Homo sapiens: one gene and its partners. The protein of the gene in region 2 purifies or fractionates together with the protein of the main gene of each other region. This does not show direct contact. Each region holds a gene or a part of one and is shown on either strand. Other genes may lie near its edges. The genes, in order: RSPRY1, NODAL and TXNDC5.

Region 1 (3,500 bases), on a different chromosome or scaffold from region 2:
TGTTGGAAAGAGCTGGTTAGACAGTGCCATATAATTAAGGGCTTTGATGCAGCAGGAAACTGGGTGCCAGTAAAGGTTTTTGAACAGGAAAATGCTGAAATTAGAAGCATACCATGTAATTCTTGTCTAAAGGGTCTCTAGGATACTTTTCTGCTAGAATATATCCAACCTGCCAGTAGAGGTCCTTATGAGGACTCATACTTACCATTGCAAAAGGAAGACCAGTGAGCCTATGAAAGAAATGAGTCTGGAAATGGAAACGGACATTTTAATAAAGGACAACTCCCACTTACAGAGATTGTCTAAGCTCCACTGGGCACAGAAACCAACTTGACGTTTCAGATAATCAGGATCATTAGCCCAGGACTCCAATGTGACAAGCCGGTCACTAATACTGGATTCAGAAATAGTCAATTTATTTTCACCTGTTTGGAAAGACATAATCCTTGAATTAACAATGAAAGGGTAGAATGATTTGCTCAGCAAATTAGTATTGCTAAGGAGGGGGAAGAGGCAATTAAAGAATTGGAGACTAGATTAGACTTCAATTAAAATTTCTAGGGAAAACATAGCCAAAGAGCTTTGACTATTTTGTTTTCCTTTTTTTTAGTCACAGGGTCTCACTCTGTTGCCTAGGCTGGAGTGCAGTGGCACAACTATGGATCACTGTAACCTTGAACTACTGGGCTCAAGTGATCCCCCCGCCTCAGCATCCCAAGTAGCTAGGAACATAGGTGCATGCCACCATGCCTGGCTGATTTTTTAAAATTTTTTGTAGAGATTGAGTCTTGCTATGCTGCCCACCCTGGTCTCGAATTCCTGGCCTGAAGCAATGCTCTGGCCTTAGCTTCCCAAAGTGCTGGGATTATGGGCAAGAGCCACCATACTTTTTTCTAGAAACTAGCAATCACATCACTAAATTTTTGGCTATAAAAAGTGAGTAAACATGGTTACCAAGTTTTGATTCTTAGGTGAGAAAATCCTTGCCTTTGTCCCTGTTATACTTCATTGGCTTTAACGTGTCTATCCAGATGAAAACAGAATGTATGCCCATCTGATGGGGTTCAAAGTGTAGGCTTATCCAGTAACTAAGAAAAATAAAATTTTTAACAACCAATACAGAAGATCATTAGTGCAAGAAGTCACTATACCTACTTGTCTGTGCAAACTTTTCCAGTGCGATAAGTGCAAAAAGCATGACTGTGGGGTGGGACTGTAACTTCTGAAAAACAACAAAAGATAAAAAAAAAAAAAAAAAATCATTCCCCTGCAGAGGTGGCAAGTTATCAGTTTCATTTCCTTGCCCAATATGTGCTAGATGTTTTTTCGAGTGGTCAGAAAAGTTTCATTCATTCAAGTTCTCAATTATCCATTTGGCTAATAATGTTAGTAATGAACTGGACAGGCTCTCTTAATCTTGTATTTTTTTCTTAAAGTCACTAGGTTAATTTATAGATTTGGAAATTTCAAAAGTATCCTGTTAAATACACTATGTTATTTTACTTAATAAAACTTACATTAGGGCTTTGTTAAATAAAATATTCATTCTCACATTCATTTATGCAAGCCAAACAGAAACCTAGAATTATAAACTAAAAATGATATTTTACTTAGAATCCTAAAAAGAACCACTTATCACTAACAAGTTGCAAAATTATAAATAATTAAATTAACAATTAATGGCTCAGTTTTTAAGCTGTTCCCTGAAAGGAATTCTACAAATGCTGATGGTAGACAGGAGAAAGCAACAAGTGAACTCTTTTAGTTACATTTAAGCTCATGTCACATGAGTTCCCCTTTAAGGAAAGGTCTATCTGTTGAACATGACACCTTCTCATAGCTGTGCTTTCCCTACTGCTACATTGGGAGCCACCAGAGGAGCTCCAGAACATCAGATGATTCCCACTGACTTCCCTGGTACCTCCTAAGTTCTGGAAACCTCACATAACCACCATCCCTGCTGCTGGAAAGCCTATTCAGCATTCTATTTCTTCTCATATCCATCTAAATCCCTCTGCCTGGCTTTTCAGGCCCTAAACCCTTTCTAGCTGGCTACTCAGTCTGTGTCCTATCTCTGAACACTGTCTTCTCTCATCAGACAATTCTCTGTCTCTGGACTTCTGCCTGTGATGTTCCCTTAGCTAAGAAACCAATTTTTTCCCTCCTCTGGGCACAATAAAATCCTCATCTATAGCATGACCCAGCTGAGGGTCCACCTTCATCAGGAAGTCTGACTTTCATGACACCCCGGCTCTCATTACCCATACCACCCACCTTCTCATTTAGTCTTTTTTTTTTTTTGAGATGGAGTCTCGCTCTGTCGCCCAGGCTGGAGGGCAGTGGTGAGATCTCAGCTAACTGTAATCTCTGCCTTCTGGGTTCAAGTGAATTCCTGCCTCAGCCTCCTGAGTAGCTGGGACTACACACACATGCCACCATGCCCAGCTAATTTTTGTATTTTTAGTAGGGACCAGGTTTCGCCATGTTGGCCAGGCTGGTCTTGAACTCCTGACCTCAGGTGACCAGCCCACCTCAGCCTCCCAAAATGCCGGGCTTATAGGCATGAGCCACCGTGCCCGGCCCTCATTTAGTCTTGATGAAGTACTTTCTCCCATGATCACATCCTGTGATAAAATGGAGGCTAATTACCTTGTCTGAGTAGTTTTGTTTCCTCAACTAACCAATAAACCTCTTGAAATCATAGGACTGCCATGTTGTATCCCCAGAGTGCTCATTGAGAGTAAGGTAAGTGTTTTAAGCACGTATCAGTGGGTATTGACAAATAAGGGTTTTCAGACCAGAGTTTTGAAAAGGGCCAATGCTCACTAGGCCTACAAAAATAACTTTTAAAAATACAGACCATTCAAGACCACAGGCCAGAACTATGAGAGATCTGAGGGCACAGCCTCAGCAAACCAGAAGCTTCATAGACAATATATTAAATATTCCAGTGACAACAGTTTTAAGAGTAGCAGTGAGGGGGAGGGCAGGGAGGAGTAGAGATTTATATATACTGGGAATCTGACTTGATGGCCTCCTGGCTTGGAACGCCATGTAATTGTTTCTACTGTGGAGGTCCCTATTACCATTTGGCAAACTCAAGGAACATGCAAAAGAGCCAATCATAGCAGCTATCTTATGACTAAATTTAAAACCAGACTAACTCAGCTGTTTTTGCTGGTTGGGATAAATTCCAATCCCACTCTCTTTTTTAAACATAGGAGGGAATAAATAAGCACTCGGGAAACACCTGCAAATAAAATTTACAATTGATTCCATTCTCTGTGCCAGTGGCTATGCCAGCAATTTGAGAAAATGCACAGTTCTAGATGATGCCCACTTCTAGATGACTAAGAATAAATAGTTTTGATGTCTCACTTACCAGACACTGTAGCAAGTATTCCAGTATTCCTGGGCTAAGTAAACCTATACTTGCAGGACCTAGACAAATACAACAAACACTTGATATAATTAAAATGCCAGATTATTTTAAATCACTG
Region 2 (3,733 bases):
AAAGTGCTGGGATTACAGGCATGAGCCACTGCACCCAGCCAGAATTGCTGCCTTTGAGGTCTTTTTACCTGGAAGATAACTGTGGTCAGGGGTTTTTGGGGATAGAGCTGCCTCACTCAGGCTCCTTTTGCTGTGCTTCCCATGTGGAACCTGAAATTAAGTCTGTCTTAGAACCCTGAGTAACAAAAGAGCCGATAAAGGTTAGATTAAGGGCATGTGGCAGGGACTGGGTTTAGCAAGCTTTATAAGCTTTAGAGGGAGGTAGGGATAAGGTAGCTCTTCCTATTCAGTCTACAGCTTAAAGCTCATGGCTCTTCTGAGCCTGACAACAGACATTTAATATGAATGCATTAGGATTCACCAGCGTTCCTTTTACAAGTGGAGACTGGACAGTGAATTGCTCACCTGAGGTCGCACAGCTTCCAGTGGCTGAGCTGTGACCATAGAGCAAGTATCTTGCCACCCAGGGCAAGGCCTTCACCACTGCTGGATAGGAAGCTCAGAGGCCTCATTAATAGCACACATTGAGAGACTGAGGTGGATTGTCACCAACTTTAACAAACTCAGGCTGTGTCTGCCGAAGCAGACTGACGCAGGGATGTCTTCTGTAACCCAACATGGCCGGTCCTCTTGGATGAGTTCCTGCCTCTGCCTTCACAGGCACCAGCTGGCCCAGGAGAACTAGACAATGGCTTTATTGTTGTACAGCTCATTAGCAGAGAACCACTCCAGTGAGCCTCTGGACAAGGCCAGTAGATTGCCACTGGCCAGCCAGAAAGCTGTGGGGCTCCCCCAACCCAGCCTGAGGCAATGAGATTGACGGACTCTTTTTAATCTATACAGTGATCCTTAATCTTTGGGGAGGGGGACAGGTCACACACAGACTACTTTGGAGAATACATGAAAGCTATAGGTGACTTCATCCCACCTCCAAAATACATGCACATATGTCTCAACTTTCACATACAGTTTCGGGGGGTTCACAGGTTTTTAAAAAATCCAGTAAAGAACTCATGCACTTGTGCTTTTCCTTGCCACTGTCTTTTCAGTAAAGAGAACATCCAGCCAGCCCCCTGCACAGGCTTCTTCCTCCCTCTTCCTGACAGCAGCCTCTGTGCTTGGCCAGACTCCACTGAGCCCTTCATTTACAGAGTGGGCAGCCCCTCCTCTTCAGTTCTGGTGGGCAGAGCAACTTTGCCCCTCTCTGTTTCTCCTTACTGGATTAGATGGTTATCATGTCTTCCAGGAGTTTCCCAGCCTTCCAGAGTGCAGGCAAATCCAGTCTCCCTCCAGGATGTCATCAGAGGCACCCACATTCTTCCACGATCATGTCTTTATGGTGATCTAGGAGCACTCTGCCATTATCCACATACAGCATGCTCAGCGGCTTGGTCTTCACTGGGGCACAACAAGTGGAAGGGACTCGGTGGGGCTGGTAACGTTTCAGCAGACTCTGTAAAGGAAAGGAAGGGTGTGTCAATTCACATCCTGATGGGCAGGTCAGAATAGTATTTCTGGGTAAAGAGTAAAAAAGTTACGGAGTTAAAGTCAGTTCCTGAGTGCAAAAATAGCAGAAAATTATTTTCATAAAGGAATTAGCTTGCCAATATATCATGAACTCTAATGTCTAAACTACCTTTAGCTCTGTGCTTGTTTTGTGAAAACAGCCTTTAAACAGATTCAAAAAATTACATGTATCTGGGTAGAGTAGTAGCTATTTTTTTTTTTAAGTGGTAGCTAATTTTTATGTTCTCCTATTATTCTAGTCTAAAGGGAATACCATTTTTTTTTTCTTTTTTGAGATGGTCTTGCTCTGTTGCCCAGGCTGGAGTGCAGTGGTGTGATCACAGCTCACTGCATCCTCAACCTCCTGGGCTCAGGTGATCCTCCCACCTCAGCCTCCTGAGTAGCTGGGACTACAGGTACATGCCACCATGCCTGGCTAATTTTTGTATTTTTTGTAGAAATAGGGTTTCGGCATGTTGCCCAGGCTGGTCTTGACCTCCTGGGCTCAAGCGATCCACCCACCTCAGCCTCCCAAAATGCTGGAATTACATGAGTGAGCCACCGTGCCCGGCTGTGAATACCAATTTTTAAAATATTCCAAGAAATTCCTGGTTTAGTTCTAGAAATATGAAGCAGAATAGTTAGTCATGTGGAAATTCTTATGGGATTTGCTGTCAGCCAGAGAAGGACAGAGAGAGTCAATAGGAGGAAAGGAACAATCCCTTGGCGTTTTGGAACCAGGGCCTGTCCCTGTGGTCTAGTAACGTCTTTTTAGATCAGAGTGTCAGAGTTGGCAGTTGGGACTGTCTGGGTCTTTGTGGTGCTCCAGGTGGGCGATGAAAATCAGCAGGCCTGGGTGAGGCTCAGGACAGATCCTCGGAAGCTCTAGTACCCCCAGGGACTCCCTTGCATGACCTCAGCCCATGTGCTCATGCTCCCCAGAGACCCTGAATCCCGCCTGAGGCTTGGCATGGAGGATATATTGCAAGTCCAAGAAATTCTCATTCCAGACTTCATGGAGTAAAATGAAAACATTTTGGTCCCATATGACCTTGGACAGCAGGGCAGGGCCACCTATAACATCAGATCCACCATATTAGGTTATATTTTCTGTTCTCTCCATCTTCTTCTCTTTCCTAACTCACCAGCTCTGTTCTTCCTCCACCACCTCCTAGACCTTAGGCTGACTAGTGGCACCAAGTGGCAGCCTCTGGCTTTGTCTACTTTTTCTTGTTTTTGAGATGGAGTTTCGCTCCTGTTGCCCAGGCTGGAGTGCAATGGCATGATCTCGGCTCACTGCAATCTCTGCCTCCCGGGTTCAAGTGATTCTCCTGCCTCAGCCTCCCGAGTAGCTGGGATTACAGGCATGTGCCACAACACCCGGCTGATTTTTGTATTTTTAGTAGAGACGGGGTGTCACCATGTTGGTCAGGCTGGTCTCAAACTCCTGACCTCAGGTGATCCGCCCACCTCAGCCTCCCAAAGTGTTGGGATTTCAGGCATGTGCCACCGCACCTGGCTGGCCTTGTCTACTTCTGTAGAATGGGTAGTCAATTCTCAACCAAAATACTGTGGCTGGAACAGTGTGATTCCAACCGTGGCCCCATAATGCAGCCAAACATGCCTGTTACCTACCAACTGCTTTACATGCCATGTGCATGTCATCTCATTAACCCTACAGCATCCCTCTGAAATATGGCATTGCCCTCCTCATCTTACAGGTGGAAAAACTGAAGCTTGAGAGAATAAGCAACCTAAACAGTATCACACAGCTAATGAGGAGTCAAATGCAGGCCTGCCTGTCCCCAAAGTCCAGATTCTTCCTTTCCTAGAATGTCAGGGCTAGGGAAGTGCTGAGACCCTCTGGTCTACCCCCACCCCCTAATTTTATGAAAGACAAGGATAAAGTCCCAGGGAAACAATGTGTTCAAGGCTACCCAGTGACGCATGACCCCATACAGGCTCTATAAGGATGTTACACTCGGTCATCTCTACATGCCTGGTACCTAGCACAGGATCCTGGTACATTGGAGGTGCTTGAGTAACTGTGAATACAGGAACATAGTCATTTAATAGCAAAGCTAGAGCCCTGTCCCCCAAGGCCAGCTTACTGCCTCCCCTCCCCCTCACGCCTGGCATCCCACCTGGATGTATGCATGGTTGGTCGGATGAAACTCCTCCCCAACAGGATTAGGACACTCGCCCTCACAGCGATAGGCGTTGTACT
Region 3 (3,119 bases), on a different chromosome or scaffold from region 2:
TTACGTCTATTCTCCATCTAAAGGGCTCCAAAAGTGTCTGAATAACAAAGAAGAAAAAAAATGACAAATCTTCCAGGCCATCAGACTGTGCTAACAGCTTGGAATGAAGGCAGTAGTTAACCCAAGCACAGGACCGACTTGCTGGCATGGCCCTTTCAGAAAGGAGGTTATGTTGAAATGATTCTTAGATTCAGCCACTGCATTTTATAATGCTGGCTTATGTGTGAAAAATGAGCGACTCGGGTATTTATGGCAAAGGCTACAGACCACTGGTCAATCATCAAGAGTCGCGGTGTGGGAAGCCCCACAGTCTATGGCGTGGGGTCTGTTACTTCACGGCCTTGTTACTCAGACAGCAAGGCCTGAAAACCTGCACTGAAACATGGATACTAACTACAAAGCGGGCGAAGAAGAATGCCTTCCCTTTGAGAGAGGATCTCTTTTGCTTCTCCAAACAAACAACTCAAAGGGACATAAAAACCACATTGTTGAGAAGATGAGAGCAGAGTGAGTTATCGTGGTTGAGGCACAGTTCCCTTGGGATCTGCCCCCATACTGAGAGCTCCCATAAGCATCCATCCAAGTACCCACCGAATACTTGCTGCAGATATTCCGTTCAGCAGTGCAGTCTACTTCGGCGATCTTGACCCCCGCCAGACCAGGGAATTCCTTTTTAGAGAGTTCCTCCCAAGTAGGAGCCAGAGTCTTACAATGACCACACCTAAGACGAGAAAAATGGCAGCTTCGTTGAAATCCTGGGTCGAGATCATTCACCTACACTCTGCTGCCAAGACAAGCTCTGTTTCTTCTGTATGGGACAGTCAACAATTGCCTAGAAATTTGTAAAATACCAAATTCTCCCACTGGGTGCACATTAACTCTTCCTCCTCCTATCCCAAATGAAGAACCCAAAAGTTGATCCAAGGTAGACTTTCAGATAATGTGACAGAAGCAAGCCAGTCTCAAAACAAGTTGAGATTCTGAGACCATTTCCATGCCATGGTGAACTGTGCTAACTGGTTTATGAAAGCACAGGAGCAGAGGAACAGGGAACAGGGCAGATGCCACACAATTTCTAAAAGGTCACTTGAATGCCAAAGACATTTTAGATTTGATTGCTTATGGTCTCACAATTTCAAAACCATTTTAAGGCCTCCTTGGTACTTCAGCGATGTGGGGTGAGCATCAAGGCCATGATTAAGTTTGGTTCAAACCCTCCCTTCTACCCGACTCTGTTCCCTTGTCTCTTCTGACCCCCTCCTGCCGTATGGATGGCTCCCCTTCAGCCAAAGGGGATCCTCCTTTTTGATACTTGATCTGTGGAGCTTTAGGTTTTTAAATGTTGCAAATGATTTGAAAGGCATTGCTATGGTTCGTTCAAGTCCTGTGCTTATTAACTTTTTACCCCTATGGTTAGTTTCTCAGGAACATGTGGAGTGTAACAAACAAGAAAAGTGACGCCTTTATCATGTTTAGATAAACAATCTACTGTTGTCCTAACACTCTGCTTTTCCAAATGGATTGTTTTATTTGTGAAGACAAAAAGTTACTCCCATTTTTCAGCTGAGGGAACTGGGGTTCAAAGGAATTAAAGGACATCCAAGTTTACTATACAGTCATTCACGGTAAGTCTTAGAACCAAGGTTGTCTGGATCTCACACTACCTGCAATCCATTTCTGCTCTGGTCTCCAAGACCACGTGGCATGCAGGTTCAGGAAACTGCGTAGCATACTGAATGGCTCTAACAGACTCTACTGGATTTCTCTACAAAAGAAATCCGAGTACTTAAAAGAACCGAGGAGCAAAGCTACATCATGACACTCATTGTTTAGCCAAAAAGAAAAGCCATCTATTTGGAAAAGTGCAGATACCACAAAACTGAATATGGCCATCATAATTTGCCTCCATTTTTATGTTTTCTCCAAAGTTGATATAACTTTAGCCTCATTCTCCATATATAATCAAAGTTGATATAACTGTAGCCTCATTCTCCATATATAATTAAGGCCATTGAAGTTTAAAATATTTGAATATAGGAGCATGATAACGGTTCCTTATTTCCTACAACATGACCTACATATAAATGTAACATGTGCCCAACATTGAGTCTGGAGGGGTGGCAGATGAGCTGAAAAACATGATGTGACTTAGTACACATGGACAAAGTAGTTTCTAATTAAACAGCCACTTACCATGGAGCATAAAACTTGATGAAGGTTATTCCTTCTGCAATGGTGTCATCGAAGTTATTTTCAGTGAGTGCCAACACAGTGCCCTTCAAGGGAGGAAAAAGCCACAGTTCAAGTACATCCCTTAAAGTTGAGCAGGGCCATGCTTTGGGATTGCAGATACACGAATCAGTAATTTTTTAAAAATGCAGTTACGTAGGCTCCAAGGTCACACAGAAATACCTACACAATCTGCATTTCATAGGCTACACACAAAGGGAGGCTGGCAGCCTCTGAAGGGCAGAGAGATCAATGCAAGTCCCTGGGTCCCAAGCCTGGGAGATGTGGTGAGGAGGTGGCTGGACACTGTACAGGGGATGAAGGTGGGGAGGGGGACTGTCTTTTGGGGATGAGGCAGGTTGAAAACTCTCCAGGGCGCTGTGGTGTGGACCAGGCAGCCCTGGGTGTCTGACACTTGAGTCTGCACCTCTAAGCCTGGAGTCTCCAGGATACCCACTGAAGTCTCATCCTCAGCCGCTTTTCTCACTGGCCACCCTATTCTCCTAGCACCCTTTGTGACATCCTCTCTATGCAACAGAAAGAACCTAGTTACAATAGCAAAGGCAATGATACCTGTTTTACATTGAACATAAAAATGGAAAGCAGCCTGTTCTAAGTCAATGTGAAAAACGCTGATGGAAGCTCTGGCTGGAGAATTTAAGGGAAAGGTGCTACATGGTAGTCTGCTTTAAAGCCATTCTCCCTTGACAGTTCTTTACAGAATGACGTCTATGTGTTTCTCCAAAAATGGATCTGCGATTCTCTCCTGAGAGCAGGAATGGGATGATTTATCACGTGGCTAAGTGTACCAGGGCTGCTCCATTTGAGTCTGGCATCGAGTAACATGTCAGTGACGGAGGCCAAGGGGGCCACTGTGGAACACTACCATC

What was found.
Region 1: the proteins of NODAL (region 2) and RSPRY1 purify together in Homo sapiens (affinity purification with mass spectrometry; one large-scale study listed by BioGRID and IntAct). This does not show direct contact.
Region 3: the proteins of NODAL (region 2) and TXNDC5 purify together in Homo sapiens (affinity purification with mass spectrometry; one large-scale study listed by BioGRID and IntAct). This does not show direct contact.

The regions. Positions count from the first base shown.
Region 1 is NC_000016.10:57,213,829-57,217,328, reverse strand, and holds part of RSPRY1 (RING finger and SPRY domain-containing protein 1 isoform 1 precursor), read right to left. Parts: intron 3,442-3,500; coding exon 3,383-3,441; intron 1,223-3,382; coding exon 1,156-1,222; intron 426-1,155; coding exon 294-425; intron 1-293.
Region 2 is NC_000010.11:70,431,636-70,435,368, forward strand, and holds the end of NODAL (nodal homolog isoform 1 preproprotein), read right to left. Parts: coding exon 3,651-3,733; intron 1,454-3,650; coding exon 1,301-1,453; 3' UTR 301-1,300; downstream 1-300. UniProt on the Homo sapiens protein: Essential for mesoderm formation and axial patterning during embryonic development.
Region 3 is NC_000006.12:7,883,768-7,886,886, forward strand, and holds part of TXNDC5 (thioredoxin domain-containing protein 5 isoform 1 precursor), read right to left. Parts: intron 2,277-3,119; coding exon 2,194-2,276; intron 722-2,193; coding exon 592-721; intron 1-591. UniProt on the Homo sapiens protein: Protein disulfide isomerase of the endoplasmic reticulum lumen involved in the formation of disulfide bonds in proteins. Can reduce insulin disulfide bonds.